4 linked regions of the Homo sapiens genome follow. The protein of the gene in region 1 purifies or fractionates together with the protein of each later gene. This does not show direct contact. Each region holds a gene or a part of one and is shown in the gene's direction. Other genes may lie near its edges.

Evidence for each region.
Region 2: the proteins of NRP1 (region 1) and UBR2 purify together in Homo sapiens (affinity purification with mass spectrometry; 4 studies listed by BioGRID and IntAct, with this or other methods). This does not show direct contact.
Region 3: the proteins of NRP1 (region 1) and KDR purify together in Homo sapiens (affinity purification with western blotting; 7 studies listed by BioGRID and IntAct, with this or other methods). This does not show direct contact.
Region 4: the proteins of NRP1 (region 1) and CSNK2A2 purify together in Homo sapiens (affinity purification with mass spectrometry; 6 studies listed by BioGRID and IntAct, with this or other methods). This does not show direct contact.

The regions. Positions count from the first base shown.
Region 1 is NC_000010.11:33,324,485-33,331,948, reverse strand, and holds part of NRP1 (neuropilin-1 isoform a precursor), read left to right. Parts: intron 1-1,066; coding exon 1,067-1,241; intron 1,242-7,464. UniProt on the Homo sapiens protein: Cell-surface receptor involved in the development of the cardiovascular system, in angiogenesis, in the formation of certain neuronal circuits and in organogenesis outside the nervous system. Mediates the chemorepulsant activity of semaphorins.
Region 2 is NC_000006.12:42,657,842-42,665,305, forward strand, and holds part of UBR2 (E3 ubiquitin-protein ligase UBR2), read left to right. Parts: intron 1-182; coding exon 183-292; intron 293-398; coding exon 399-479; intron 480-804; coding exon 805-983; intron 984-1,814; coding exon 1,815-2,014; intron 2,015-4,342; coding exon 4,343-4,436; intron 4,437-5,416; coding exon 5,417-5,578; intron 5,579-7,464. UniProt on the Homo sapiens protein: E3 ubiquitin-protein ligase which is a component of the N-end rule pathway.
Region 3 is NC_000004.12:55,122,550-55,129,857, reverse strand, and holds the start of KDR (vascular endothelial growth factor receptor 2 precursor), read left to right. Parts: upstream 1-4,262; 5' UTR 4,263-4,564; coding exon 4,565-4,631; intron 4,632-7,308. UniProt on the Homo sapiens protein: Tyrosine-protein kinase that acts as a cell-surface receptor for VEGFA, VEGFC and VEGFD. Plays an essential role in the regulation of angiogenesis, vascular development, vascular permeability, and embryonic hematopoiesis.
Region 4 is NC_000016.10:58,195,107-58,203,508, reverse strand, and holds the start of CSNK2A2 (casein kinase II subunit alpha'), read left to right. Parts: upstream 1-5,402; 5' UTR 5,403-5,772; coding exon 5,773-5,876; intron 5,877-6,600; exon of another isoform or gene 6,601-6,664; coding exon 6,665-6,776; intron 6,777-8,402.

The DNA.
Region 1 (7,464 bases):
TTACTGAAAATTTGTGATTGATAGGCTTATATATTTCACTGTTTTCATACCGTTTCTCTTATATAGTTTATGCACCGAATTTTTATTGCTCAAAATTAAGCATCAATAAATGTGGCAGCATTTCAGGCTGAGGTGCTCCAGTATGAAATCCATCATAAAATGTGACAATGAGAATCTATGCTGAACAATATAGGCAGCCCAGAGACTGGTTTACTTGGTTTATTTGGCTTCACTTGAGCATTTTTGAAATGAAGGCTCAAAACTACTTAGCTCACCTTTCCCAGAATGTGAGAATGTGGGTTACCATATGTGATACCCAGACCTGTGTGGTGGGTTATTTTTCACCCAACATTTAGGTAATTAGAATTAATGCCATGTGGCTATTTACTTTTCCTTCTGCCCCGTTGCTTTGATCCGATCTCCAAGCTTGAACAACTTTACTTGGAGAAGTAAAGCAGAATTATTTCTGCTTCACCAAATATACTTTGTTCTCTGTTGATTTGGATCTCAAGAGCAGAGATAACTCAAAATCACTTAGATTTATGGGCAGATAAAACAACAACAACAAAAGGTTTGGCTTTAAGCCAATCAAAGACAATCCCCACTGATCAATGACATAGACCAGGCTTATCATCAAAAAACAACACAAGGGGTCGAACAGCATCTTTCAGTCACTTTCCACTTAGAACTTGCTACTTAATGTGATTACACTTCTTGGGGGATAATTAAGTCTAGCAGAAGCTCCCAGGGGACCATGTTAACATCAATTGAGGGGATTTAATGTTTTTAATGCTAGAAGACCTTTTCCTTAGGAAGAAACTTCGGGGCTGGGGGGAAGAGTCCTCTCAGATCTCAGTTGGCTTTCTGCCTGAGTCAACCTTCCTGAGATCAAAGAGTGTTTTTTCCTGGAGTGTTGCACTCAGAGCCACACGAAGGACTTACGGGGACCTTTTAGAGTTCCCCTTAAAAAGTTAAGGAATGTTTAATAACCAGTAATTTACATATAAAGCTAGATTACCTAACAGGTTGTCAGGAAAGATCTGCTAAAATCTTACTTTCATTGCAGATAAATGTGGCGATACTATAAAAATTGAAAGCCCCGGGTACCTTACATCTCCTGGTTATCCTCATTCTTATCACCCAAGTGAAAAATGCGAATGGCTGATTCAGGCTCCGGACCCATACCAGAGAATTATGATCAACTTCAACCCTCACTTCGATTTGGAGGACAGAGACTGCAAGTAAGTGGGAATGTTTTTGAACAGGGCACCACAGCACCATCTAGTGGTCACGCCTGTCTACGGGGGGGAAGTCGGTGTGTACAATGTAGATTATAAATGGATCCAGGAGGGATTCCAATCTCAGCCAGATTATATGTCAATGGTATGGAAATTGAAGTACGTTAAGTGATTTCTGAGTTCCCCAAACCAGGAAGATTATAGTTAAATGTGTAAGCTCTTATACTCCTTCCTGTTAGCACTTTTGGTTTGGGAACTCTTGTTAAGAAATGTATACAGTATGTATGTTTCTTTTTTCTTTCTTTTTTTTTTTTTCCTGGAGAGGGGAAGAACTAGAAACTCAAAAATCTCACTTGTATTTTTACGAAATACAGTGGATCACTAATATACATCGCATCCACAGATAGTGTGATTGGAGATCTCACTATTTGAGATATATTGAACTGTGGCACATCTTATGATTTAAGAACTGCATTCATCTTACTAAGTAAGTTTGACATGGAAAAAGCAAATTGAATAAAATAAGGCCTACAGGATAAGCCAGATGAGGGGTTTTGTAAATGGTGGATTACTGATTAAAATACTTTTATGGAAAATGCTAGAAAATAATTGTTAAGACACGATGAATACAATGGGAACTCAAATACACATCAGTGTTTCATCCACCTGCTTAGTCTTGCTATCTCTTTCTATTGTTAAGTTTCTAAACATCAACTTATGCCCAATTTCGTTATTATGAAGACATTCTCACTATAGAGACAGTCGAAATTATATTTCCTCACTTTATGTGAAAGAACTGGTATGTGGATATTGCTTTCCACAGTATCGAAAGTATGTTTTTACCTTGCACGTAGCAGTCCACTCAGATACATGTTTGCTCGTCTCTCTTAACACCCAACAGACCCCCTGTCTCTGTCTTGTCCACATTATCCCATTCTGACCCACTGAAAGTGGTGTAGTCTCCAGAGACTTGAACCTGAATATCCATCTTTTAAGTTTGTACATATATAAATAGTTTTATCAAAGAAAAATAATCGATTTAAATCTCAATTCTAAAGTGTTTCTCAGGGACTGAGAGGTTTTCACAAGTTTTAAAGTGGGTCAGTTTGGTGTAACCGTATATGATATCTACAGACTACTGCTACCGCTGGACCTAAATATTATTTTGCAAGTATATTCATTGTTAAAGACAGTCTATTTGAACACACATTTCTTTTGGGAAAGAACAGAGTAATATCAAAATCTTCCTACCTGTAGGAAGTGCTCGACAACCTGTTGAGTTGGTTTAGTAAACTAGCTTTTCATGGTCAGAGAGATGAGGTCATTTGGTTCATTCAACATTTTAGTATCTAGAGAATTAGCATAAATCCACAGGCTGATGACCAGTTTCCAAATAATCAGTGTATACTACAGTGCAACAAAATTACACCAATTCCAATTTATCTTTGCTTTGTGATTCAGAAGTGCCTCAGGGCATTATATTGACTTTTTAATTGTGTATGGAAGTTACCATTAATAGTGTTCCAGTGACTGCTTGGAAACAAAGAGTTCATTGTATTGATTTATTTATTTTTGCTAATATTCTTTATGGTGGTTTTTACAGTGTCAATCACCTAGACAATCTGGAGACTTGTTTTCTTTTATATTTGATTTACTTCATTAGTAGTAGCAGTAGTTATTAGTATTTGCTTTTTGACCATGTTTAAACTGCTATAGGAGAAACTCTGGTAAAACATACTCAAGTAATAACATTATTCCAAAAAATAAAGTGCTGTTAGAATTCAATAAACTGACGTTTACTAATTTCTAATCTGGAAATCATGACCATCAATACGTGTAATATAATACTTAAAGAATTCAGAATAATCACTAGTTATTGGCAGTGATGTGGTGGTAAATGTTTAACAGCTGGCTCTTTGGAGAAGACGAGTCAAGTCCTCATTTGTATGTAGCACATGCCAATTTCTGTGGTGTAAATACTCTCATCATAGCCAATTTCAAACTAACCATGTGATGTCACTGTGCCCAGACTAGCAAAGAAATGTGCACAGTTGGTTCTTATGAGCTGGTGGGCGCCAGATCCAGCACACAACTGGAGTAGAAATTTAAGAAGGGAAGCCAGTTGAATCACTTAATATATGTAAAGGGCTTACAATTCTATTTGCACATACATTTCTTCTGGGAAAGAACAGAGTAATATAAAAATCTTCCTACCTGTAGAAAGCGCTCAACAACCTGTTGAGTTGGTGTAGTAAACTAGCTTTTCATGGTCAGGGAAATAAGGTCATCTGGTTCATTCAACATTTTGGTGCCTAGAGAATTAGCATAAATCCATAGGCTGATGATCAGTTTCCAAATAATCAGCGTATACTAATTATTACAACAGCATCTCACAGTATTACAATGGTGTCTAGCTCACAGTAAACCTTAAATAATGATTTGTCATATCATGGTGTCAGGTGGGGTATAATGGGATTAAAGGAGCACCTTTTTGGTTAGTTTTCTTTTTAAAAAGTACATTAAAAGATGATTGTAATTCACAGAAAATGACAGTTTTAGTGATATCAGCAAAGTATTTGAGAAACTGACATGGCCAAGAAGATGTTACATAACAATCTTAATAATGGTGACTTTGTTTGTTTTTTTAATGCTACAGAGTAAGGTGATTTCTTAATTGTCCCAACTGAGGCTTTGCTCTCTGTGAAGGTGTCATCTCCTGGCCAAAGCTGAAAGGCTGTTATATTTAGCCTGATGAAGTCAATGGAGATTAGATCCATGGAAAATATCTTCCTGCTGTGTTTTGAAGTGTTGCATTGTGAGCTTTTTATCAATGAGAAACTCCAGAAAGATATAGGAAGACCAGCATAAGGCATTCCTTTCACTATCTTTCTAAGCTGATTCATATGAATGACTAGTGCTCAGTGTTGAAGGGTGCATTTGAGATTCTACAAATGTGGCAAAATACTTACCTCCTTTTGTGAAGGCTTTGAGAAGAATCCACAGATTTAAATTTTACAGGGGATTGGAATGCCCTAGGGGGAAAAAAAAAACCTGGGAACACCAGAAATTATTTGAAGAACAAATTCATAGACTTCAAAGTTTAGATTAGATTCCTACAAACATAGTTTTGTTATTAGGGTTTTTTTGTACTTTATATCAGGCTATTTACAAAAATGGATTGGAGGTGGCACAAAACTAGGCACAGTTAAAACCACATTCTGAAAGCTGGTGAGCTTTTAGTTATCACTCTTGTTAAGAACAAACTATTCATCTTATTTAAGACATTTAATATTTTTCCTTGTTCCAGCTTCATTATATGTCTGTTGGCAGTAAAAAACATTTGCTATGCTGATGTCATAGGGTTACTAGTAGGATCAAGTAGTAGATAGGAAAGCCTTTTTAAAAGGTAAAAGTGACCCTCAAAATAAGTTATCATTATTATGATATCTTTAACAAGTTGGTGATTTTTAGAACATTTGGAAATATGAAACTAAACATACGTCAAAACTAAATCTATTGACCCAGTAATGAGATGATTTGCACATGATACACCCTGCATTTTCTCTTGAAATGGTCAGTATTTGTATAGTCAACTTCCACCCTGAGAAAGCTTAAGAAATCGATGCCTTAGCACATTTGCTTATTGTGAAACATCTTTGAAACCCAAGTAAACAGTTTTCTTTTGTAGAGTATAGGGATGGTTAAGTCATTAGACCAGCTACATAGTCCTGGTAGAAAAAAAAAAATTTTTTATTTAGATTTTTATTGTTTTATGTATAATTAGGTAAAAAACATCATTTCATAATCTTAACAATACAGTATACAGTCACAACTTCTCATGTGAATAGCACCAAGACTGACCCAGTTCATGAGTTAATTCTGGATCATACTTTGCAAAATGGTGAAGTTTTTGCAGTGGCTGTCAAAGGTGGATACTTCGTTAGGAAAATTAAATGTGTAAGTTGTGCCTCCATAGTTTTAACATGCAACATTCTGTGTCTATGCCAGCACTGAATGAGGTTTCATTACAAATAAGCATCAGAACCATAATACTATAACCCCTTAATTCTTTTATTGAACAAGATGTGGTGTAAATCAGTCGATCAACAGACCAGTGGAGCGTCTGTCTGCAGGGCTAACACAGAACTAGGATTTTTTCCCAGCTATATATATGCATGATTTTATTATTAGATTGAGAGGATTCTAGAGAATGCTCTGACCGAAGAAGGTGTTGAGGGAGAGGAAGGAATGTTGATTTCTTTTTTGCCAGCAAAATCCTGCACACTTGTGAAGTGTCAAAGCATAATTAAAAATAGAAAAGAAATAAAGAAGTGACCAGTGGAGAGTTTTCGGAAACACATGTTCATTGCACATTGAAAATGGTTTTCAGTATGTACATCGAACTAGTTAGATCTTACTCCACTAAAGTTTTCTTCAGTGGTAAGGCAGACATCTTGAATCTCATAAAAGTTTATATCTGTATAATAAACAAGAATGTCATTGATATGGTAGTTAGAATTTATGAAACTTCTCCAGTTTCCCAGCAATGCACACAATCAGCATGATAATTTATAATGGTTTGTGACAAATACTGCTGAGCAAAGAGGTGTATGGTTACATTCAGATCAGATGTCACCATCCGGGGAGCAATAAAAATTTCACAGACATTGGGTTAAAAACATTAAGGAAATGAATGCAAAGCTCTAACAAAAGTCTAAAAAGGTGGTAGCATTGGGGGACTCAAACCCAGTAGTGCTTTTCCTACTGACAAGAAGAAAATCTTACTTACCGACTTCAGTGTCTGATTTGACAGTGCTGTTTCATATCATGGCACAGTTGCTTTTTTCAACTATGATTTAGATTTGTAATCTCTCCTCTGTGTAACCAACAATAGGCATGTTTTTCCTAACTCAGTGCGTTCAAAGGAAGATCGCATACTTGTAACTTCGTAAGAAGTTTAATCATAGTGAAATTATAAGCAAATAGAGATGATATTCGTTTCAGAATTTTGTTGGGATAATTCAGATATTGTTCCTTTAATGCTAGTTTTTAAATTACCTAAATTATTAAAAACTTTGAAACAGTGCTAATGTCTTTTATTTTCAGAGAATATAAACTTATGGAATGAAAAATAATCTGCCCTTGGTTTCTCAAATCTGATTATTCCCGCACATTTACATTTATTCCTGCACATTTACACTTATTGGCATTTTTTGGAGTGTAAGTTCCATTTTCTGTTTTCCTGAGTAATATGAGTAATATTTTCTGTTTTAATCTTTCTTTATTATTACTAGCATGGATTTTTTAGGATTAATTTGGATTTTTAAAAAATGTTACATTAAAATACTATTTATCTTAATCACTGAGTTTTTGGCTTTTTGTATCCAAGGGAAGTACCTCACTCTAGTCTTGTATTTTAGAGCATCACTTAGACTAAAACAAAATCCTTGTTTTATGGAAAACTGAGTTTTTTAAGCCAAACTACATCTCTATTTTCCATATGAAATAGAGAAGAATATATACCTTTAGTAAAGTATAATATATATTTAGAAAAATACACAACCCAAGTATAAGATTTGATAAAATTTTGCAAGGTGGATACATCCACAAAACCAATCTAGAGGCCAACATTTCCAGCTTCCTAGAAGCCCTCTGATGTCAGTTTTAGTCACCAACCTTTGCCCTCAAGGGCAACTGCTGTCCTAACTTCTGTGACTTCATTTTTATACATTTCAAAATCAGGTAAAACTCAACTAGAGTCTTAGAAGTCTGTATGTACAGGCCAGGCACGGTGGCTCACTCGCAAACATTGGGAGCCAGAGGCAGGCATCACTTGAAGTCAGGAGTTCGACTGAAACCAGCCTGGCCAACATGGTGAAACCCCGTCTCTACTAAAAATACAAAAATTAGCCAGGCAAGGTGGTGCACGCCTGTAGTCCCAGCTACTCGGGAGGCTGAGGCAAGAGAATGGCTTGAACCTGGGAAGCGGAGGTTGCAGTGAGCCAAGATCCGCACCATTGCACTCCAGCCTGGGCAACAGGAGCAAAACTCCGTCTCAAAAAAAAGAAGCCTGTGGGTACTATCCTTGAACATAGACAGTGAAAGTCTTTGGAGTGGATATAGAAAAAATAGGTACTATTTCTAATCAAAAAGCAGAATCCTACTGATGCATTTTCTAATTTTTTTCAGTGGCTACTGATGGAAATATCTTGTCTTTGTTTCAAAC
Region 2 (7,464 bases), on another chromosome or scaffold:
TGTTTGTAAAAGACAAATATGTCACATTCTCAAGAAGTATTGAAAATCTCTATTTTGGTAGAGCCATAATCAAATTATGGGCAATAGGTGTTATAAGCAACTGCATTTATGTTCCTGTGCGTAGGAATAAGTACTATGAAGTATTAGCTATTGTTATTGTGCCTTTTATTTTTCTGCCGTAGAACCTGGTGAAGCGCCAAAAAATTCTCCTAGCATACTAGCTATGCTGGAAACACTACAAAATGCTCCCTACCTAGAAGTCCACAAAGACATGATTCGGTGGATATTGAAGGTAAAATTTCCACATTCCTCTGCTTTTTGTGAGAAATATTGAATATTTGTTATGTGTACATTGTGATCATATTTCATACAGGATACTGATACTTTTTTTTTTGTAGACTTTTAATGCTGTTAAAAAGATGAGGGAGAGTTCACCTACCAGTCCCGTGGCAGAGACAGAAGGAACCATAATGGAAGAGGTATAAACAGTAAAAAGTGTGATAATACTAAAAAATTACAGCAAGTTCAGTATGAACAAAATAAATTTATCTACATTAAGTTGCCAGTTACTCACAACATTTAAATTCCAAGAAATATGCCACTATTTATCTCTATTTGTTGTAGCAATTTTTTGTCTGCTTTTTTTCTTTAAAACAAGTCAGTTTAAGAGTCTTTTCTCTTATTTAAATAAGTGAGATTATAGAATAGTTTTTTAATTGGTATTTACAGTGAAGATATTTCTGCTTTGGAAAAAAATGTGCGTTTTAGCATCTAATTGTCTAATTGAATGGAGCATAATTTCAGAGTTCAAGGGACAAAGACAAAGCTGAGAGGAAGAGAAAAGCAGAGATTGCCAGACTGCGCAGAGAAAAGATCATGGCTCAGATGTCTGAAATGCAGCGGCATTTTATTGATGAAAACAAAGAACTCTTTCAGCAGACATTAGAACTGGATGCCTCAACCTCTGCTGTTCTTGATCATAGGTAAAAAAAAAAAAAAAAAAAATTAATGTCTTGACGAGTTTTTCCCAACTAGGGGCAGTGTTGCGTTTTCTCCTTGTAAGTATACTTTTAATCCTAAAGTAATTTAGTAGAATTCATAGGTAAATTTTGTGACCTCCATTTAGAAGATTTAATCTTAGAAGTCTCTGAATGTAGGTATGGTAAGTCCTGTGTACACCTGGTAGGGTATTTTCTGCAGAAGACCTTGGACATTCATGAAAGAATGAGTACACTACACTCAGTTACCTAGAGCGTATGACATCTGTGTTGAAGATTAGATTACTGTGAGGATTAAAGGAGATGGTTTTGATACATACCAAAGACTTGACAATCCAAGTTATCAAAACCATGTGTTAAATATATACATTCCTGGCTGTGCGTGGTGGCTCACGCCTGTAATCCCAGCACTTCGGGAGGCCAAGGCGGGCGGATCACAAGGTGAGGAGTTCGAGACCAGCCTGACCAACATGGTGAAACCCCATCTCTACTAAAAATACAAAAAAAAAAAATTAGCCGGGTGTGGTGGTGCATGCCTATAATCCCAGCTACTCAGGAGGCTGAGTCAGGAGAATTGCTTGAACCTGCGAGGCGGAGGTTGCAGTGAGCCAAGATTGTGCCACTCACCCCAGCCTGGGTGACAGAGCAAGACTCTGTCTCAAAAAATAAATAAATATATATACACACACACACACACACACACACACACACACACACACACACTACACACACACACACATACCTGTAGTCTGCTATTTTGTGATTATATAGAAAGTTTTGGGATCATTAATTATATTCATAACCTTTGTATTGCAGCCCTGTGGCTTCAGATATGACACTTACAGCACTGGGCCCCGCACAAACTCAGGTTCCTGAACAAAGACAATTCGTTACATGTATATTGTGTCAAGAGGAGCAAGAAGTTAAAGTGGAAAGCAGGGCAATGGTCTTGGCAGCATTTGTTCAGAGATCAACTGTATTATCAAAAAACAGAAGTAAATTTATTCAAGATCCAGGTAAGTCATAGCTAGATCCTCATCTTCCCTTTTAATAACAACTGCCAGTTAATGTGGTTGGTGATACGTTGAGATTTTTTAAACCTAAAAATAACTCCATGGACTTGGATGGTATCTTTGGCAGGTAACTTAGGCAGGAATTCCCCACTTGGCAGATGTGGAACCACTCCAGAAAGTTGCACCTGAATCACATAGCTGATAAATAGCAGGGATTCAAAGAAAAGCTTTTCTTTGTGATGTAACATTACATACTTTGGCATTTCACAGTCTTTTCCATCCTTCAGTACACTTGCAAAGTCCTGGTCATTTGTTGACACACTGAAATAATAATTGTTTTGTCTTATTGATAGAGCCTGAGTGGAATCTCCTGAGAACAGTGATGGAGAGTTACCTATGTAAGAGGCAATCCTTGAGCCAAATTGTTTTAGAATAGTAATACCACCACAGATCGGGTTCCCCAGAAAGCAGATTCTTGGGATACAGATTACCGTGCAGGACAGTTGAGGGCCCTCTTTCAGCAACTGAGGGAGTAAAGCAGGGAGATCCAGTCCGCACATGATTTTGTCCACCACAGACACATTTATTTCTCTGCTTGTAGGTTGTGCTCTGTGTGCGTGTGCTTCAGCGATACCCAGTAAACTTCTTGAGAGTAGGAACTGTGTCTTGGGAATTCCCAGAGCACTGCTTTAACCAGTGCCTTTCACACTGCAGCGTGAAAGGAGGTTTGAGAGCCCACTTTTAGAGTTGCCTTCTCTCTGTAAAGAAAGTCTTTGCATCCTACTTATGAAAGGTTGGTCTGCTTCATCTTTAAAAATGGTCATTTAGGCTGGGTATGGTGGCTCATGCCTGTAATCCCAGCACTTTGGGAGGCCGAGGCAGGTGGATCACCTGAGGTCAGGAGTTCAAGACCAGCCTGGCCAACATGGCGAAACCCCATCTCTACTAATAGTACAAAAAAAAAACTAGCCAAATTTGGTGGCACGCGCCTGTAGTCCCAGCTACTCAAGAGGCTGAGGCATGAGAATTGCTTGAACCTGGGAGGCAGAGGTTGCAGTGAGCCGAGATTGCACCACTGCCCTCCAGCCTGGGCAACGGAGCGAGACCCTGTGTGGTTTTTTTGTTTGTTTGTTTGTTTGTTTTTAAAAAAAAAAAAAAAGGCCAGGCGCAGTGGCTCATGTCTGTAATCCCAGCACTCTGGGAGGCCAAGGCAGGCAGATCACAAGGTCAGGAGATCAAGACCATCCTGGCTAACACAGTGAAACCCCATCTCTACTAAAAAATACAAAAAAAAATTAGCCAGGCGTGGTGGCAGTTACCTGCTACTCGGGAGGCTGAGGCAGGAGAATGGCGTGAACCCAGGAAGCAGAGCTTGCAGTGAGTCGAGATCGCGCCACTGCACTCCAATCTGGGCGACAAAGCGAGACTGTCTTAAAAAAAAAAAAGATATTTAAACTAGGTGCTTTATAAATTTCATTCCAGGCCAAAGACAAAGTTGCTAATTTTATTTAACTTATTACTTCTGAAGAAAAAGCATTAGCTGGCTATAAGTGGATTTTCTTAATGCTTTGACATTTGCACTGTTCTAGTGTTAAAGCAAATTAAAACTATTAAAGCAAATTAAAAGTAGTTCTTTCTAGAGTGTTAGGAAATTTCGAAGATTATACTAATTTATATAAAGAATTCAAAAATTCCAAAAGAAGCCAGACATCCATCTTGTTTTTCATGATTTTTCATCCCCTTTGAATATAAAAATTAGCACCAGGACAGAAGACTCTGAATTACCTTTTTTCCCCCCATCTGATCTGGTCTGTGCTTAGATTTTTTGTTGTCACTTTGGCTCTGATGTGATTATTCGCTGTATGAGTGTTGTTAGGCAGTCTGTCCTCTAGGGGGCGCCCCGTTACTGCCAAAACATTTTTTATTAGCGATCATTTTAACCCAGCTGCCCTGAACGCACATAAGGCAGCCCCATGAAGAGAGTAGCTCTTTTACCTGGAGCTCAGGGTACAATGGGAGGAATTGGAATATCTCAGCACCCTGAAAGTGTGAAATGTTCAAAAGATTGGATATATTTAAATTCATAGTTCTAATTTCAGTTTAACAATTTGAGAATGTTTAATTAATTTGCTGTGGGTGGTGAAAATTAGAGAGTCCTACTTTCTAAATAATCCAAGGTGTTGCATAAATTGGTATCTCAGAGGAATAAACTAGCATTTCATTTCAAATTTCAAGTCTTTATCAAGGATTTTACAATTTAAAGTTACACATTTGTTATAGGAAAATTAAATGCTTCACTTTTGTTTTGTTTTGTTTTGTTTTGTAATGCAGAAAAATATGATCCATTATTCATGCACCCTGATCTGTCTTGTGGAACACACACTAGTAGCTGTGGGCACATTATGCATGCCCATTGTTGGCAAAGGTAATGTATATTCTTAATATTTGTCAAGAGAAGTTTATCTAAGGGCTCAATATTTTTTAAATAGAGGAAATTTCATTCTAGAAAAAAGGAAAAGAACTAAAAATGTTGAAAAAATCCGTATCATTGCCTAATAAATAACAAAAGTTATTTGCCTTGTCATAGATGTAAAGTGTATGTCAGATATGTTTTTTAATTTAGCTTTATATCCAAGTCTCTTCTATATCTTCCAAAGAAGGAAGTGGATCTGTATCAGTCTGTGGATGAAGAAAAGGGTTTTTACAGTAGGATAAACTCTAGAAGGGTAATGTTGTCTTTCTTTGGGTCCAGGGTGGACAACTTTTGATTCCATAGATGTTAGTACTTGCTTTGTTACTTCCCAAAATTGTAATGGCTCCCTGTGATGAGATGTCCTGAATTTGTTCTACCTTGGTGTTTCCTATGCTTCTACAAAACCAACAAATCAATAATACTATTATTCTAGAACTATGCTCACCCAGTTATCATGAACTACCCCTAACAACTAGCCACCACATTGTAGTCCCAGCTACTTGGGAGGCTGAGACAGGAGAATTGCTTGAATGTGGGAGGTGGAGGTTGCAGTGAACCAAGATTGTGCAACTGCACTCCAGCCTGGGCGACAGAGCAAGACTCCATCTCAAAAACAACAACAACAACAAAAAAAAAACAAATAGCCACCAGCCTTGGGGAAGTGGCAAGAGAACAATGACACCAAGAAATTTTTGTTGCTGCTTTGTGAATGCTTTTTTACATGGCAGTCTTTTTTTTTATTTTACTCTTTTAGAACTTTTAATCCATTTGGATTTTTAAAATCACTCAAAAATCATGTTAAAAATAATTTAGTTTAAGATTTTCATTTTTGAACTATTTGTGGAAACAAATTATTTTAAATGTTGAAGCTTATGGCTGTCATTTATGTAAATTACCATTGTTTTGATACCTCATGTTCTCTAATTGTAAAGGTATTTTGATTCCGTTCAAGCTAAAGAACAGCGAAGGCAACAGAGATTACGCTTACATACGAGCTATGATGTAGAAAACGGAGAATTCCTTTGCCCCCTTTGTGAATGCTTGAGTAATACTGTTATTCCTCTGCTGCTTCCTCCAAGAAATATTTTTAACAAGTAAGTTTTGGCTCATGACAACTATTACAAAGCAATAGTTTGCTTTGAAGATAATGAAATAATAAATCAAGGAGGAAAACTTAGTCTAGGCAATTGCATAGTGTTTTCCAGATACTTTCCAAACTCTAATCATTTTCTTCTAGCAGACCTGTGGAATGTGATTTTAGTTTTTAGAGAGGAACAGGTGAAAATTTAACAGTTTCTAAGCTATTAAATTCCTATGTATTTATGAAAACCAAGTATCTGGTTTATTTCTAGGGACCCTACTTTTAATATCTTCCATACACTTTTCAAGAGATGCTCAGTAAACTGGTAGAGGGAGATGGAACAACTCAAACTGACTTTATAGGACAGTCTAAAAATCGAATAAAACTTTTTGCTGTACTGGCCATTCATAGTTTTAAGAACCAGGCAAAAAAGTGAAAATCTGTTGGTATATTTTAAATGGAAAAATCTCAGCTGGGCGTTGTGGCTCACATCTATAATCCTAGCACTTTGAGAGGCCAAGATGAAAGGATCATTTGAGCCCAGGAGTTCAAGACCAGCCTGGGCAACATAGTGAGACCCTGTCTGTACAAAAAATAAAAAGTTAGCTGGATGTAGCGGCATATTCCTATAGTCCCAGCTACTTCAGAGACTCAGGTGGGAGGCTCGCTTGGGTCAAGGCTGCAGTGAGCTTTGATCATGCCATTGCACTTCAGCCTGAGTGACAGAGCAAGACCCTGTCTCAAAAATAAAATAAGTGCTTGCTTCAGCAGCACATATACTAAAATTGGAACGATAAAGAGAAGATAAGCATGGCTCTTTCACAAGGATGACACACAAATTCATGAAGTGTTCCATATTTTTAGCTCTTTTAGAATTTGTCTAGCAGACTAAAAAAAAATAAGAAAAGAAAATGGAAAATTTCTGTAACTTCACAGTTTTTTGGATGCTTTTAGTTACGAGTATTGGACATACTCATTTCGAGTATGAATTTGATAATGTCTGCTTTTCGAATCTGAACTTCATTTCTCAATGTAGAATTATGCTATCTACGTTGCATGCACAAATACTAAGTTATGTGAGTATAAACGATCCATTTCTGTGTTATTTGGATTCAGTTCAAAGCAAAGTCAGTTTTTTCTTGTCAGTTTTAGGAGTTCAAACTTTGGTGTTCTTAGTCTATGCTACCACAAAATGTTCTTAAAATATTAGTAGATTTGAGTGTAAGCTCATGCTTTTTAATTATAAAAGAATATCGTGGTACTGACTTATCTGCATTTGAACTGATGAAGAAATTAATTATTGTTAGATGGAGGATTAACTGTGTATAAGAAGAAATCACCCTTGTTGGATTTCATCTGTCACTTTATTGGTCCAATTTTTGGGTTTTGCCCATGAGATTCAATTATGGTTTAGTCATATTCGAATACAATCATAAAAAGAACACAGGCTTTGGAATCTGACAGAGCCAAGTTTGAATGCTAGCTTTGTCCCTTATTCGGCCTTAGTCAAGTTACATAGCTCTAAACCTCAGTTTCCTCATCTGTAAAATGGGGACAATAATAAAACCTATTACAAAATATAGGAATACAACCTATGCAAATAATAATACAACCTGAAACAAAATGTAGGGATATTTTGAGGATTAAGTCTAATACCATAAGATATTTACAGTAAAATTCCTTACTAAGTGCTTGTAACATAATAAGCACTTGGTAGATATTAATAGTGATGGTGATTATGATACTTAAGAAATTCTAGCAAATTCCAATACTGAAGAGTGAGATTTTTAATACACAGTGTTATTACCATCATATTGACAAATAATATATTCCTTTCCATTGGCCAATATCCTGATTTTTTTTAATGCAACAAATTTTCCCTTATCCTTTTTGTTTTTA
Region 3 (7,308 bases), on another chromosome or scaffold:
TTTAGATCCCTGAGGAATTGCCACACTGTCTTCCACAATGGTTGAACTAGTTTACAGTCCCACCAACAGTGTGAAAGTGTTCCTATTTCTCCACATGCTCTCTAGCACCTGTTGTTTCCTGACTTTTTAATGATTGCCATTCTAACTGGTGTGAGATGCTATCTCATTGTGGTTTTGATTTGCATTTCTCTGATGACCAGTGATGATGAGCATTTTCTCATGTGTCTGTTGGCTGCATAAATGTCTTCTTTTGAGAAGTGTCTGTTCATGTCCTTTGCCCACTTTTTGATGCGATTGTTTGTTTTTTTCTTGTAAATTTGTTTGAGTTCTTTGCAGATTCTGGATATTAGCCCTTTGTCAGATGAGTAGATTGCAAAAATTTTCTCCCATTCTGTAGGTTGTCTGTTCACTCTGATGGTAGTTTCTTTTGCTGTGCAGAAGCTCTTTAGTTTAATGAGATCCCATTTGTCAATTTTGGCTTTTGTTGCCATTGCTTTTGGTGTTTTAGTCATGAAGTCCTTGCCCATGCCTATGTCCTGAATGGTATTGCCTAGGTTTTCTTCTAGGGTTTTTATGGTTTTAGGTCTGACATTTAAGTCTTTAATCCATCTTGAATTAATTTTTGTATAAGGTGTAAGGAAGGGATCCAGTTTCAGCTTTCTACATATGGCTAGCCAGTTTTCCCAGCACCATTTATTAAATAGGGAATCCTTTCCCCATTGCTTGTTTCTGTCAGGTTTGTTGAAGATCAGATGGTTGTAGATGTGTGGTATTATTTCTGAGGGTTCTGTTCTGTTCCATTGGTCTATATCTCTGTTTTGGTACCAGTACCATGCTGTTTTGGTTACTGTAGCCTTGTAGTATAGTTTGAAGTCAGGTAGCATGATGCCTCCAGCTTTGTTCTTTTGGCTTAGATTTGTCTTGGCAATTCAGGCTCTTTTTTGGTTCCATATGAACTTTAAAGTAGTTTTTTCCAATTCTGTGAAGAAAGTCATTGGTAGCTTGATGGGGATGGTATTGAATCTACAAATTACCTTGGGCAGTATGGCCATTTTCACGATATTGATTCTTCCTATCCATGAACATGGAATGTTCTTCCATTTGTTTGTGTCCTCTTTTATTTCATTGAGCAATGGTTTGTAGTTCTTCTTGAAGAGGTCCTTCACATCCCCTGTAAGTTGGATTCCTGGGTATTTTATTCTCTTTGAAGCAATTGAACTTCCACAGTTATTAACCTTTGACAAATCTTCATATAACTTGTTAAGACATGGAGTCCAAAATACTGTTGGTAATGTAACCAAATTTGGAGATCATGGAGAGTAATTTATGCAGTGTGCTTTGAGTATGAACAATGTATATTCTGTATGTACAAGCCCAGAAAAGTAGCTGGAGACAAGAAGTGCTTAAAGATTAAATTAAATTTGTCTTGGGTGAGGCTATTACAATGATTCCTCATTTAAGCTCATCTTGACATTATTTTCACCATCGTAACCCCAGTTCCTGGTTCAATGCCTAGCATATAGTAGGTGCTCAAAAACTGTTGAATGAATGAGCCTGCTTAGCAGTTTAGATCTCAGCAGCATGAAGAAGCCCATGCATTGTAGTATAAGCAACCTTTGCAGAATGTTTCTTAATGTGTATCTGGTGCTTTCTATGTCCAAGATCTTTACTAGCTGTGTTGGGGCCTACTCCAAGTGCCTTACATGCAGTAACTCCTTTAATTCTTGTAAGAACCCTATGAAGAAGGTACTATTATAATTTTTTTTGTGTTTCATAGATAAGTTACTTGTAAGTTGGTAAAGATCACACAGATCATAAGCGGTAGATCTGGGAATAAAATCCAGAGTCTGTGCACTTAGCTACTACTCTGCTGTGGCATCTGAATAGCATCTATGGAACACTCAACACATTTGGGGCACTTTGCTAGGTGCCTTACTGTTGGGTTAACTCACAAAAGTCACTCCTTTGCAATGCCAGATAACGAGAGGGTGCTGCACATGGAACAGCCTTTCTTTCTTTCTTTTCTATCTTTTTTTTTTTTAACAGACTTTGCCATTTTTTTTGTGAACCTAAGGCACTTCTAAGTGCTGTGTGGGAGGGAATGTGGTAGACTGATTTCATTGAGACTCTGCCAAATTCTGGTCTTGCGGCCATCAAAGACGCATCATTTCCTCCAAGACTTCTAAAGGGGGCTATTACCACGGGCCTGCAGGTTCTGGTTTGCATTCAGAGGAGACACTATCTTCTTAAATGAGACATGGAAGAGGAAGTGTCATGAACTGTAAATAAGGCTGATAGGGAATTGTTTGGTGATGGGGATGGAGAAAAACTGCCCTCTCCAAACCAGGTTCCATCTCCCACCCCTTTATCCAACTTTGCCAGAGTCCATCCTATTTTATTTGCTGAGTTTACTAGCAGGAAGAGAGGAGTTTCTTTAAAGATTCTCTCCCCTCCCCAAATAAATACCTCCCAGATAAATATGAGTACATCTATATAGTAGAGCACTATGCCAACATTGAAAAGATGGAAGGATGGAGCTTTGTTCGCAGCCAGCTTAGGCAACATAGTGAGACCCTGCCTCTATATAAAAATAAATAAATAAATAAATAAATAAATAAATAAATAAAAGATGGAGCTTTAAAGGTTGATGTAGAACGAATCTCCAGTGTATATTATAAAGTGAAGGCTGGGCAGGGTGGCTCGTGCTTGTAATCCCAGCACTTTGGGAGACTGAGGCAGGAGGATGGACTGAGTCCAGGCATTGGAGACCAGCCTGGGCAACATAGTGAGACCTTGTCTCAAATAAATAAATCAAATTTAAAGGGAAAAAAGCCAAGGCTCAAATAGCATTTATACCAAGCAATTGTGGGAAGAGAAGGGTGACATGTCTACATACTTGTGTTTAAGAATCTGCTTGGAAAAAAAAGGAAACATAAAAATGCCTCTGCCAAAAGAAAAGTCTTTTCACTCTAAGCCTTTTTGTGTTTTTCCAAAATTTTTTTTTGCCATATACATTCATTATATTTCAGCATTAAAATATTTCACCTGTCAACTTGGAAAAGTAAAAGCGTGAATACAGTAAATATTTAAAAACAGATGAAGATAAGTAACAGGTTACATTAATTGTATACAATCAATCTAGTTTGAATTAGGTGTAGATATAATAATTCTGTGTGTTTATCTTGGTGAAGAATGGTCCTTTAGGTTGTCATTAAAAAGCACCTCTGGGAGGTAAAAGACATAGGCATCTGGAAGATTCATATTTAATGAAGTTAGGGGACATTTGATGTCACTCCCCAGGTGTGGGGAGATATGGACAGAAAACCAGAAGGAACGAATGTGGTCAGGAAGGAATTGGAGTTCCCCTCCAAACAGCTGCCACAAGAAGTCCACACACGTGGAGACAGTTGTGCAATTTGGTCACAGAGTGTCCTAGGTGCTTTTGCTTCATTGCTCCTCCACTGAAGCACGCTGGCAGCTGGCCTCCTTCCCCTGGGACTAAGGATATCTTGGCTGGAAGCTCTGCTCTGAAAAGGGGCATGGCCAAACTTTCACTAGGGCTCTTCGTTGGGGAGCACGATGGACAAAAGCCTTCTTGGGGCTAGGCAGGTCACTTCAAACTTGGAGCCGCCAAATATTTTGGGAAATAGCGGGAATGTTGGCGAACTGGGCAAGTGCGTTTTCTGATTAAGAGCAACCAGATTCAGCTTTTTAAACTACAATTATACTGGCCAAACAAAATACCCTTATACAAAAACCAAAACTACTGGCAGGAGTCGCTGCCAGCTTGCGACCCGGCATACTTGGCTGAGTATCCGCTTCTCCCTTGTGGCTCCAAACTGCTGCAGATTCTCGGCCACTTCAGACGCGCGCGATGGCGAAGAGGGTCCTGCACTTTGACGCGCCTGGTGAGGGAGCGCTGCTCTTCGCAGCGCTCCTGGTGATGCTCCCCAAATTTCGGGGACCGGCAAGCGATTAAATCTTGGAGTTGCTCAGCGCCCGTTACCGAGTACTTTTTATTTACACCAGAAACAAAGTTGTTGCTCTGGGATGTTCTCTCCTGGGCGACTTGGGGCCCAGCGCAGTCCAGTTGTGTGGGGAAATGGGGAGATGTAAATGGGCTTGGGGAGCTGGAGATCGCCGCCGGGTACCCGGGTGAGGGGCGGGGCTGGCCGCACGGGAGAGCCCCTCCTCCGCTCCGGCCCCGCCCCGCATGGCCCCGCCTCCGCGCTCTAGAGTTTCGGCACCAGCTCCCACCCTGCACTGAGTCCCGGGACCCCGGGAGAGCGGTCAATGTGTGGTCGCTGCGTTTCCTCTGCCTGCGCCGGGCATCACTTGCGCGCCGCAGAAAGTCCGTCTGGCAGCCTGGATATCCTCTCCTACCGGCACCCGCAGACGCCCCTGCAGCCGCGGTCGGCGCCCGGGCTCCCTAGCCCTGTGCGCTCAACTGTCCTGCGCTGCGGGGTGCCGCGAGTTCCACCTCCGCGCCTCCTTCTCTAGACAGGCGCTGGGAGAAAGAACCGGCTCCCGAGTTCTGGGCATTTCGCCCGGCTCGAGGTGCAGGATGCAGAGCAAGGTGCTGCTGGCCGTCGCCCTGTGGCTCTGCGTGGAGACCCGGGCCGCCTCTGTGGGTAAGGAGCCCACTCTGGAGGAGGAAGGCAGACAGGTCGGGTGAGGGCGGAGAGGACCTGAAAGCCAGATCTAACTCGGAATCGTAGAGCTGGAGAGTTGGACAGGACTTGACATTTTGCGATCTTTCATTTACCAGTGGGGAAACTGAGGCTCAGAGACTGGCCCAAGATTACCCAGCGAGTCTGTGGTCGCCTGTGCTCTAGCCCAGTTCCTTTTCTAGGACTCTGGTTTGCGACAGGGACCTCGGCTGGAGCATGTCCTGAGATGCCGACACACCCTCAGGCTCTTGGGAGGCTGGGGTGGGAAGGCGCCTGGGGTTGGCAGGCAGGAGGTGCCTCCGCAGGCGAGAACAGGCGGTGAAAAGTTGTCTGGCTGCGCGCAACATCCTAGTCCGGGCCCGGGGAAGAAAACCTTGCCGGAATCTCAGGCCGGGTCTCCCGGATCGGACGGTACACTCGGTTCTGCCTCTTTGCGGGACCCGGCCCGTTGTTGTCTTCATGCTCGAACACACTTGCACACCACTGTGTGAAGTGGGGTCTGGAGCGGAGAGAAACTTTTTTTCCTTCCTTGGTGCAGGACGCCGCTCTCCTTGCAGAGCGAAGAAGGGGGGGAATAGGGACTTGTCCTGGGGGCTTTGACAGCTTCCCCAAGGGTCTCCAAGTAACAGCCAACTGTCCTGCGTAAAGCATTGCACATCTTTCAAAGCGCTGTGGTCCTTGGTGTAAGCGCATAGTCAGAAGTTCAAGCTCCGAAAACCTTTCCTGTGGGCCTTGGTACCTAGCTTTAGTGCCATTCCTTCCTCTCCCTGCCGCCTAAAATTTCCGTCTCCTTCAATTAGGAACACACACGTTCTTCATGCAATAGCTGTCTGTCTTTTCTTCCTCACTTTCCTTTCTCTCTCAACCCCTTAGATAATATTTCTTTCCTGCAGCCAGTTTGCTGATATCCAGATTTCCACCCTTTGCAGGGTGAGAAAGGGGAAAGGGTCAGAGAAAGAAAAAAAAAAAGTCGAATAATTCAGGGAAAAAAATTTCTTACTCCCTAAGACAAGAATCACATGTCTTAGAAGACACTCACACCCACATACAGTACCAGGATCATCTGTCCATGGTTACTGAATTTTCTTTATAATGACTTGGTTCAACGGGTCCAGTCCACCATGGACACTCATTTGTCCCAGACAAGCCCTCTCTCTCCCCCTTTCTGGGCAGAGAATGAAGGTCTGGAACATGTGGTTGCTCTGTATTCCACAAAGAAGTGAGTTGCTTTTAAGCCTGGGGTGTTTCCTAGCGTAGTAGTAACGGCAGGCCGGTCGCCCTGAATATAATGGTGAACTTGCCCTTTTGGAGTGCATTACTTGCTTAATTGGATTGGGCTGTAATTGGTGCCATCAAATTCTAGAGACAGAGGCACTGTTGTTTTTCCTTCCCGTCTTTGAGCTGGAAGGGTAACAGTGCACAAATTAATTAATATTGGTTATGGGATTTGAACATAGAAGGGCTTTTTATTGAGTAGTAGCATGTGTACCTCTTACAGTTATTTCTTTAGAACTTTCTGAAGAGTCCAGCTCAAGCTTGCCAATGAAAACGAATGACATTTAATGGAGCAAAAACAAAAAACAAAAAACTATGTTGGTCTACAAATATGAATTTGAAGTTATTGAGAGCCTTGTTGAATAGATTTTTGTTGTAAACGTGTCTCTAGAATAGTATGGCATAGTCTCAGCTTCCTATGAATGAAGGACATACCTTTTCTTTTTTAAAATATTTGTTACACAGGAAAGTGTGTCTAGAATGTGATCTGTGGCAATAAATTATGAGAGACCTTCAAGAGTTTCTGATTTTGGTAGCCGAGTGGGCACAGTTTATTGAGAATCATTTTTACTGCCATTTGTTTTCTCACAAGAATGTGCCCAAATAATGGTTTTTTTCTCATTTGGATGGCAGTGTGAATTGTACATCATGTTTTCAGCATCTTTCTCAACCTAGTGTTCCCCAGTCAAGTTTGAAATCTGTGTTATCCAAATGAATTGTTTTCATTTTCCTTTTCTTAGACAAAGTGGGACTCCAGGTTTCATTTTGCTTTTAAACATTTTGGTTTTTTGTTTGCCTGTTTTGGGGGCAGTTATTTCTTTCATATTAAAAAGTACTGTGCAGGCTGGGTGCAGTGGCTCATTCCTGTAATCCCAGCACTTAGGGAAGCAGAGGCAGGAGGATCGCTTGAGTCCAGGAGTTCAAGAAGTGCCTGGGCAACATAGCGAGACCCCATTCTCTATTTAAAACATAAATGTAACCCCCGTTCCACGCACAAAGTACTGTGCAAATTAATTAAACATGACCACCCAGACCAGCAACTGTCCAAGAGTGGCCCATAGACCATCTGTGGTAGGATAATTTGAAATGCTTGTTAAAATGCAGATTTGTAGACCCAGGGATATTCTGACAGAGTCTAAAGTCTTAAGAACAAAACTGTTCTAAACATAAGTCAGTACCAATGCCAGTTAATTTCTGAGATATATTGATATAACTTAGTTTCCAGTTTTTTAAAAACCATATTATTGACTTAAAAACCATGATATTGACCAGTTATGTCAGTAACTTATTTTGCACATCTGTGTGGTGTGTGAGAACATGTGCAGTCACTTATTCATTTTGCCTGCATTTGTTCATATTGGGA
Region 4 (8,402 bases), on another chromosome or scaffold:
ATTCTGTTGCCCAGGCTGGAGTGCAATGGCACAATCTCGGCTCACTACAACCTCCACCTCCCGGGTTCAAACAATTCTCCTGCCTCAGCTTCCTGAGTAGCTGGGATTACAGGTGCATGCCACCACACTCAGCAAATTTTTGTATTTTTAGTAGAGACAGGGTTTCACTATGTTGTCCAGGCTGGTCTCAAACTCCTGGCTTCAGGTGATCCACCCACCTCAGCATCCCAAAGTGCTGGGATTACAGGCATGAGCCACTGTGCCCGGCCATAAGTGTGTATCTTTGAGGTGGGTGAAGGATGTTATTCTGCTTACCACAATTACTTGTACAACTTTTCTTTTTGGGACGGAGTTTCGCTCTTGTTGCCCAGGCTGGAGTGCAATGGTGCAATCTCAGCTCACTGCAACCTCTGCCTCCCAGGCTCAAGTGATTCTTCTGCCTCAGCCTCCCAAGTAGCTGGGGTTACAGGCGTGCTTCCACCATGCCCAGCTAATTTTTTGTATTTTTAATAGAGATGGGGTTTCACCATTTTGGCCTCAGGTGATCCACCCATCTCGGCCTCCCAAAGTGCTGGGATTACAGGCGTGAACCACCACACCTGGCCACAAATTTTTAACACGTATTTATTTATTTATCTATTTATTTTTGGAGATAGGAGCTTGCTCTGTGATTCAGGCTGGAGTGCAATGGCATGACCATAGCTTACTGCAGCCTCGAACTCCTGGGCTCAAACAATCCATCTGTTTCAGCCTCCTGAGTAGCTAAGGCTTGCACCAACATGCCCAGCTAATTTTTTAAATTTTATTGTAGAGTTGGGGTCTCTCAGTGTTGCCCAGGCTGATTTCAAACTCCTGGCCTCAAGAGATCCTTCCACCTCGGCCTCCCAAAGTGCTGGGATTACAGGCGTGAACCACCATACCCAGCTCTCCTATTTAAAAATCTTGTGTCCTAAAATTTGTCCATTGCTAAAAATTCCTCATAATCATGCTTTTTAGTAACGCCTAATAGTTTCACTGTAGGGAATGTATCACAATTTATTTAGCTGGTCCCCCAGCTTGTGATATTTACATCACTTTACATTTTCATGATTAAAGATAATGATTATCATGCGGAACGTCTGTGGGCCTTTGCATGACATACTGAATCAGAAAGGGGTTAAGGAAAGTGACGTGGTGGTCAGAAAGATCAGAGTTCAAATCCAGGCTCTGCCTCAGTTGGTCATTGTCATTGGAGTCTTGGTTTCCTCCTCCGCACAAAGGGGACCCTTACAAGAGCTCCAACCTTATAGATTTCTAAAAACAGCTATGTTGAGATAAAATTCACATAACATAAATCCACCCATTTAAAGTCTAAATTCAATGGTTTTTAGCCATGTACGGTTTTGGCGGGATTCAATGATGTAGAATCATTATGTGTGTGATGAACACACAAATTGCCATCATGATCAATAATTCTTTGTTCATAATTTTCATTATTTTGTTAGGCTAGGTTCTTGAGAAGTATCGATGCAGGATAAAAGCCTATAAACTTCTCAAATGTTTTGAAAGTAGGCTTGTGAAGATAGGTGGCCTTCAGTGGGATTTTAAAATGTGCTTTTGTTTTTTGGATTTTTGGTGTTTGGATAGAATTTGGGGGCATTGGAGGTGGTATGAAAGTGTTGGGTTATTTGATTCAAAATACCCTCTTTCATTCCCTTGTGTTGCACCACTGAATTATACTCACCCTCAAACTGCACACACAGAGTAATGAGGGGAAGTCACTTCTAATTCACGGACCCTCCCTGCCTGGCACCTCCCCCGCAGAGTCACCACCCTATCCCTCTTCATATCCAAGTGAGACTCCTTCGGTGAGGGTTGCATGAGTACCATTTCCAATTGCCCACCTTAACTCAAGCCACGCCAGTTTCATGGCGGGTGGGCAGAAATGAGAGGCAGGGGTCTCTGCCAATTCCATGGGGTGCCCACCCAACCTCCCAACAAACCACAGAAATATTCCATTTGGCTGTGGGTGGACTGACTGCAGGTTTTAGGGCTGAGTTAGTATGGTGTCAGCCAAATCCAGGAGTGTGTTGCACCAGAGTGGTGTGTGGGTGAATCCTCAGGCATCCCGCAGGTGTGGGATCAGGTTACGTGAGATGGGTGTGGGCTATGTGGTGAGGGATGAGAGGAAGGTGCACGGAGGGTGGGTGGGGTCAGAGGTGGGCGAGGGTGGAGGTGAGGAATGAGGCCCCAGCTGAGGTTGGACATAGTAGTTAAACCAGTGGTTTGGAATCATTTTTGGGTCATGGCCTCCTTTGAGAATCTGATGTATGCTAAGGAAAGAATGGACACACACACACACGCACATGCACACACACACACACACACACAAACCCACAAATTCTGCATATTGTGTCAGGGGTTCCCAGAACTGGGGAAATTCATCCAAGGACTGGCATTAAGAATCTCTGGTCTGGTCTAGTTCACAGGGACTTGTCAGAAACAAATCCTAAAGCTGCATTAAGAGCTTGAGGATATTTATGTCTTCTAGAGTGAAAGAGATTTAGAAAGGTTTGCAGGTTCAGGAATTAAATTCCAAAGTCCACTTTTTCCATTAATTTTTTTTTCTAGTTTTTATTTTGAAAATTTTCAAATTCTACCAAAAAATTGCAAGCTCATGTACTGTTCAACTACATTCACTAATTATCAAAATTTTCCCCCAATTCCTCCCCACTCTATGCATGCTTATGCTCTCAGAAACCCACATTTTCCTGGAGAACAATTTGAGACTAAGTTGCAAATATTGATTCTTCATCTCTACACACTTGGCATGTAACTCCTAAAATTATGGGATTCTCCTGCATAACTAAATACAATGATCATACTCACAAACTTTAACATTGATACAATATAACGTTGTGTAATATACATTAACATTGTGTAATATACATCCTATATTCAAATTTCCCCTGCAGTAACCTTCTATTAGGTTGGTGCAAAAGTAACTGCGGTTTTCGCCATTACTTTCAATTGAATTTCAATAACTTTTGCACCAGCCCAATATGAGCTGTATTCTTTCTCTTTCCCTCCTTTCCTTTCTACTTTAAAAAAAAATCCAGACTCTAATTCAGAATCATACACTTCATCTAATTATGTCTCTAAGTCTTCAGTAACAAGAATACGAATCTAGGGTTTCGTTTGGTTTTCTTTCTCCTAGTGACATTGACTTTTTGAAGAACTCAGGCTAGCTGTTTGGCAGAATGTCGCCCAGCTTGGATTTGTCTGATGGTGTCCTTATCATTAGATTCAGGTTAAATGTTTTGGCAGGAGGACCACATGGGGGAGGTGTCCCTTCTCAGTGCATCACATCAGAGGATCAGTTGGTTCCCTACTGATGAGAAGTTTGGACCATGGGTAAGGTGGTGACCTCGTTTCCCCTTGGTAATTCCTAAGTCATCTGTGGGGTAGCACTGTATTTACTGAAGGTCTCTGACTGTGGCAAATGCTGGGAGAGTCAGTGGTGAGCGCCCACACTCTGTCCTTGCTCTTGTGCTGTTTTTACAAAGGAGGGGACAGACAATAACCCAGGAAACAAATAATGACAAGATATGCAGTTTGATGAAGGACGTGGATAGGGTGCTGAGATAGAGAAGTATCAACTCTAGAGAAAGTGATCTTTAAGCTGAGACTTGAGCTGGAGGCATGCCTGTAGTCCCAACTCCTCAGGAGGCTGGGGTGGGAAGATCGTTTGAGCCCAGGAGTTCTGGGCTGTAGTGTGCAATGCCAATCAGGTGTCCACACTAAGTTTGGCATCAACTATGATGACCTCCTGGGGCTGGAGGACCACCAGGTTGCCAGGTGGCAAACAGCAGGTCAAAACTCCTGTTCGGATCAGTAGTGGGATCATGCCTGTGAATAGCCACTGCACTCCAGCCTGGGCAATATAGAGACACCCTATTTCTAAAAAAATACTACTAATAAAGAAAAAGGTGAAATTTGAATAGGAAAAAGGAGACACCCTTGGGAAGGTGGGGTGGAGGGGTTGGGGGTGGCTCCTAGTTAAGCTTGGAGGATAGAAGGAACCAAAAGACGGATGCACGGTGGTCTCAGGGAGGGAGGAATGAGCAGAGAAAGGCCCTAGGCCTGGAAATAATCATATTGAACACATGCTATCCTAATAGTGAACACCATCCTAAGTGTTTCACATGGTTTACCTTGTTTAATTCTCCTTGCAGCCCTGTGAAGTGAGCGTTATTACTGGTTTTATGCTGTAGAATCTGTGACACAGAGAGGTTGAGTAATTGCCCTAAGGTCACACAGCTTCTAAGTAGCAGTGCTGGATAGATCTGACTCCACAGACTGTGCTCTTAGCTGTGTCAAGCAGGAAGGCCCAGGGTTTCATCCAGAAAACAGAATGTGAAAAGGGACTGGAATGAAAGCAACCTGTACTGGGTGCAGAGGTGCTGTCGATAAAGGATGAGGGATGGGAAAGGAAGACAGAAGAAAGGCCTAGAAGATCAAAGGAGAAGGGTGTTCAAGGCTGCAGGCAGCACTGGAAGCCAGGCCAGCTCAGTTGACCACCTACTCTGGGCACATCCCCAACCCAGCCTGTCCCTTCAGGTCGGATTTGCAATTCTCCTGCTCTCCCTCCTCCTAAACACAAACAGGAGATTTACACTCTCAAAGTCTCTCCCCACAAATGACTTATTAATCACAAAGGGAAAAATTGTAACTTTGCAGTGGCACAACCTGGTCAATGCCAGCTTAACCAAGTGACCAAAGTGGATATTCAGGGAAGGCTCTGGAAGGGCATTTGGGGGAAGTGTAGAAAGGTTTTGTGAGGAGCACTCTGAATGACGGGGGTAGGAAGCCTTGGGGACTGAGGAGTCTACCCTAACAGGGCAGGGTCCAGAGGGGGAAGGAGGGGTATGTCTCGGGGGAAGGGAGAAGTATTGAGGTGGGGGAGGTTCTGAGGTTTGAGTGAGGCCCTGGGGAGGGACTTGACAGTTTGGGTGACAGGAGGGTCAGAATAGGGTCAGTATGGGATGTGTTGGGTGGGTAAAAGCTGGGTGAGTGCAGGGCTGGGGATAGGGTCTCCAAGGACAGTGAAAGGGTCGGGAGTCGCGGGCGAGGGCTCTAGGGCAACGGCCAGTGGAAGGGGGGGCTCCTGTGGCGTGAAGTCAAGCCAGCCCGAGGGTGAGGCGATTTGGACAGTCCGACCTGTGGCGGCGGGAGGGCGAGGGTGGCGGAGGGCGCGAGGTAGGCGGCGGGGCGTGCCGGGGCGGGGCCGGGGCGGGGCCGGCACCGCCCGGCGGGTCCCCCCGCGCTCCAGGGGGCGCTGTGAGCCTGGGCGGCCCCAGGCCGGGCGGCGGCCGCTCCCAGTGAGCGCGGCCCCTTTTCCGGGTTTCCTCCGCCTCCTCCTCCTCTCCTCCTTCTTCTCCGCTGCCGCCGCCGCTGCCCCTTTCCCGGCCGGTGGCTGCCGCTGCCGGTGCCGCCGCCGCCGCCTCCTGGGGGCCGCGAGCCGAGCGGAGACCGCCGCGGAGCGCGAGCGCCGCCCGCCCCGCCGCCCCGCCGGCCGCTCCAGGGCCGGGCCGGCTCGGCCGGCGCCCCCCGCGCCCCCAGCCCGCCCGCCCCCGCGGGCCCGGCCTGGCGCGGCCGCCCGCCGCCGCGCTCCTCCTCCTCCTCCTCCAGCGCCCGGCGGCCCGCTGCCTCCTCCGCCCGACGCCCCGCGTCCCCCGCCGCGCCGCCGCCGCCACCCTCTGCGCCCCGCGCCGCCCCCCGGTCCCGCCCGCCATGCCCGGCCCGGCCGCGGGCAGCAGGGCCCGGGTCTACGCCGAGGTGAACAGTCTGAGGAGCCGCGAGTACTGGGACTACGAGGCTCACGTCCCGAGCTGGGGGTAAAGCCGTCGCCGCCCCCCGCCGGGCCCGCTGATCCCTGCCCCCGCCCGGCCACCCCCTGCGAACCGCACTCGGGCCCGGTGGTGTCTCCCGCCGACCCCTCCGCGGGCCCGCAGGGAGGCAGAGGTCCCGCTCTCGCACATGTCCTCGTCTTCCTCTTCCCTCCCCTTTACCCCCGTTTCGTCCCTTTCTCCCCGCTTTGCGCACCCCTTTCCCCCAAGGAATGCTTTTTTACTCGGGGAGAAGTGTGGGGTCCAGGGATCGACGCCGGGTGGAAGTGAGGGAGCTGCCCTTCCTCACACTTCTGGGTTTCCACTGGGGTGGGAAGTCAACAGCTGTCCTTTGGAGCTATTAAAATGCCCTGCCTTTTAGGTTTTCTGAGATGAGGTGGTGGGAGGAAATTTCTTAAAGACGTCCAGATTTTTAAAACAGGCATTGTCTACCTTGAAGATGTGAAACGAGAAGCAGGTGCTGGGGAGCCGCGGGGCACAGGGGGCACCCTCTAGGCCTTCAGGACGGGTGCTTTGCTCGCCCCTCTGGATTGGCTCAGAGCGTTGCCTTCCTGCCCCATCTTCCCAAGTTAGGAGAGACCAATTAGGTTAGGAGCTCTGCAGAGTGAAGGGAGCCAAGATTATGTCGTGGCTTTCATTTAGGGAATGAGTTGTGACGTGATGTATAGACACTTCCAAGTGTTTGCCTGGTGGAAGCGGCTGAATGACGTGTACAGTGGGCATAGGCTTGGTTAACCCCCAGTCCTGGCATTTATGTGTGTGTCTTCCTTTTACAGTAATCAAGATGATTACCAACTGGTTCGAAAACTTGGTCGGGGAAAATATAGTGAAGTATTTGAGGCCATTAATATCACCAACAATGAGAGAGTGGTTGTAAAAATCCTGAAGGTGAGTGTCCTATGAGTGGTATGTAACATTTTCCTCCCCACAGGGCAAAAGTTTGTAAGGTACCCCAGTCACATTCTATAATGGGCAATGCAAGCTTGAATTTAATTTAATTTATTTGTTTAGAGTCAGAGTCTCACTCTGTCACCCAGGCTGGAGTGCAGATCATAGTTCACTGCAGCCTTCAACTCCTGGGCTCCAGTGATCCATCTCAGCCTCCCAAGTAGCTGGGACTACAGGTGCATGCCACCACGCCCAGCTATTTTTAAAATTTTTTTGTAGAGTCAGGGTCTGGTCATGTTGCCCAGGCTGGTCTTAAGCTCCTGAGCTCAAGCAGTCCTCCAAAAGGACTCCTTGCAGGCCTCCTATAGTTGCTGGGATTAGAGGCGTGAGCCACTGTGCCCAGCCGACGCTCAAATTTTATTTATCTGATGTCCCTTCATTACTTCTTTTTCCACCCCATTTTCCCATGAACTTTCAAGAAAATGTGCAGACATCACAAATCTAAGTTCAGTAAAGTGTTTGTTCTAAAATGTAAATTCCCTAAAGCAAAAATTCCAAAAGGGCTCCGTTTGTTAGAAAATAAATAGGTAATCAAAAGACAGAAAAGCCACTCTCAATTTAAGGGCTCCCTGAGCACTGTGTTTGTTACTCTTGGTGCATGCTGTATGTTATTCCAGAAAGAAAGTTGGAAAAAATTGGAGCGACTTCAGAAATGTATTTCAAGCCCAAGTGGAAGGAAATTCCTTAGCGGATAATCACTTGTTTTTTTCCTTTGGCAGTAAAGTTTCAGGTGGTATGGATACAGTGCACCAGTAGTGCTGAGAAGCCTTGTTGGGAAGCCAGAGAGCCATTGTTGCTTATAAGCTAGTAAAAATATAGAAGAGTTCATGTATAATTACTAAAGTAATAATTGGAACAAAACTATCTTAATATATGGTTTAGCAATGAATTTGATAATGATATGACGTTATCTCTTTGATGAAGATGATTTTAATTAGCATGAAGGGTCGGCTAAATTTTCCTTCTGGTAACTGATTGTGTAGCTTTAATAATGTTTTATAGGGTATAGTAAAAAGTAGTTCTTAGAATCTGTGATGGGTCCTCGTTATTGCCGGATCATTTCATGTGGATACAAGTCATTTAGTGAGAGATTGAGAAGACCGAAGAGTGATGTAAGCACTTTGCATACATGTGATTTCCATTGTGGCCCTTTTGCAGAGGTTCTGTGGACTAGAAAAGCTGTGGTATAGAAAAGCTGTTTCTGTGTGCTAGGGCAGCTGGTATAGGTAATCCCTGTTTAATGTGAGGGGTCAGGCTTATGCTTTCTGGTAATCATCTTTCAGAAAAAATGATTAACTCCATCACTCAAAACATCCTAGCCTAGTGATAAAGGAGCAGAATTGCAGTAAAGAGAAAAAGCAAAGTTATTTGTGTTCTCAGACACACTGGGGCTGAGAAGTGAGGAACTGATGTTGAAGATACTGAGTGTGACTCCTCTCTTCCCTAAATATGAATTGCATTTATGAAGTCACAAGGTGGTTTTTTTTTTTTTTAAGTCACAGGAAAATTACCTTAGAAAGCCATACATTAGCTTTATGTACATAAGCATAAGTTTTCAATAAGCTG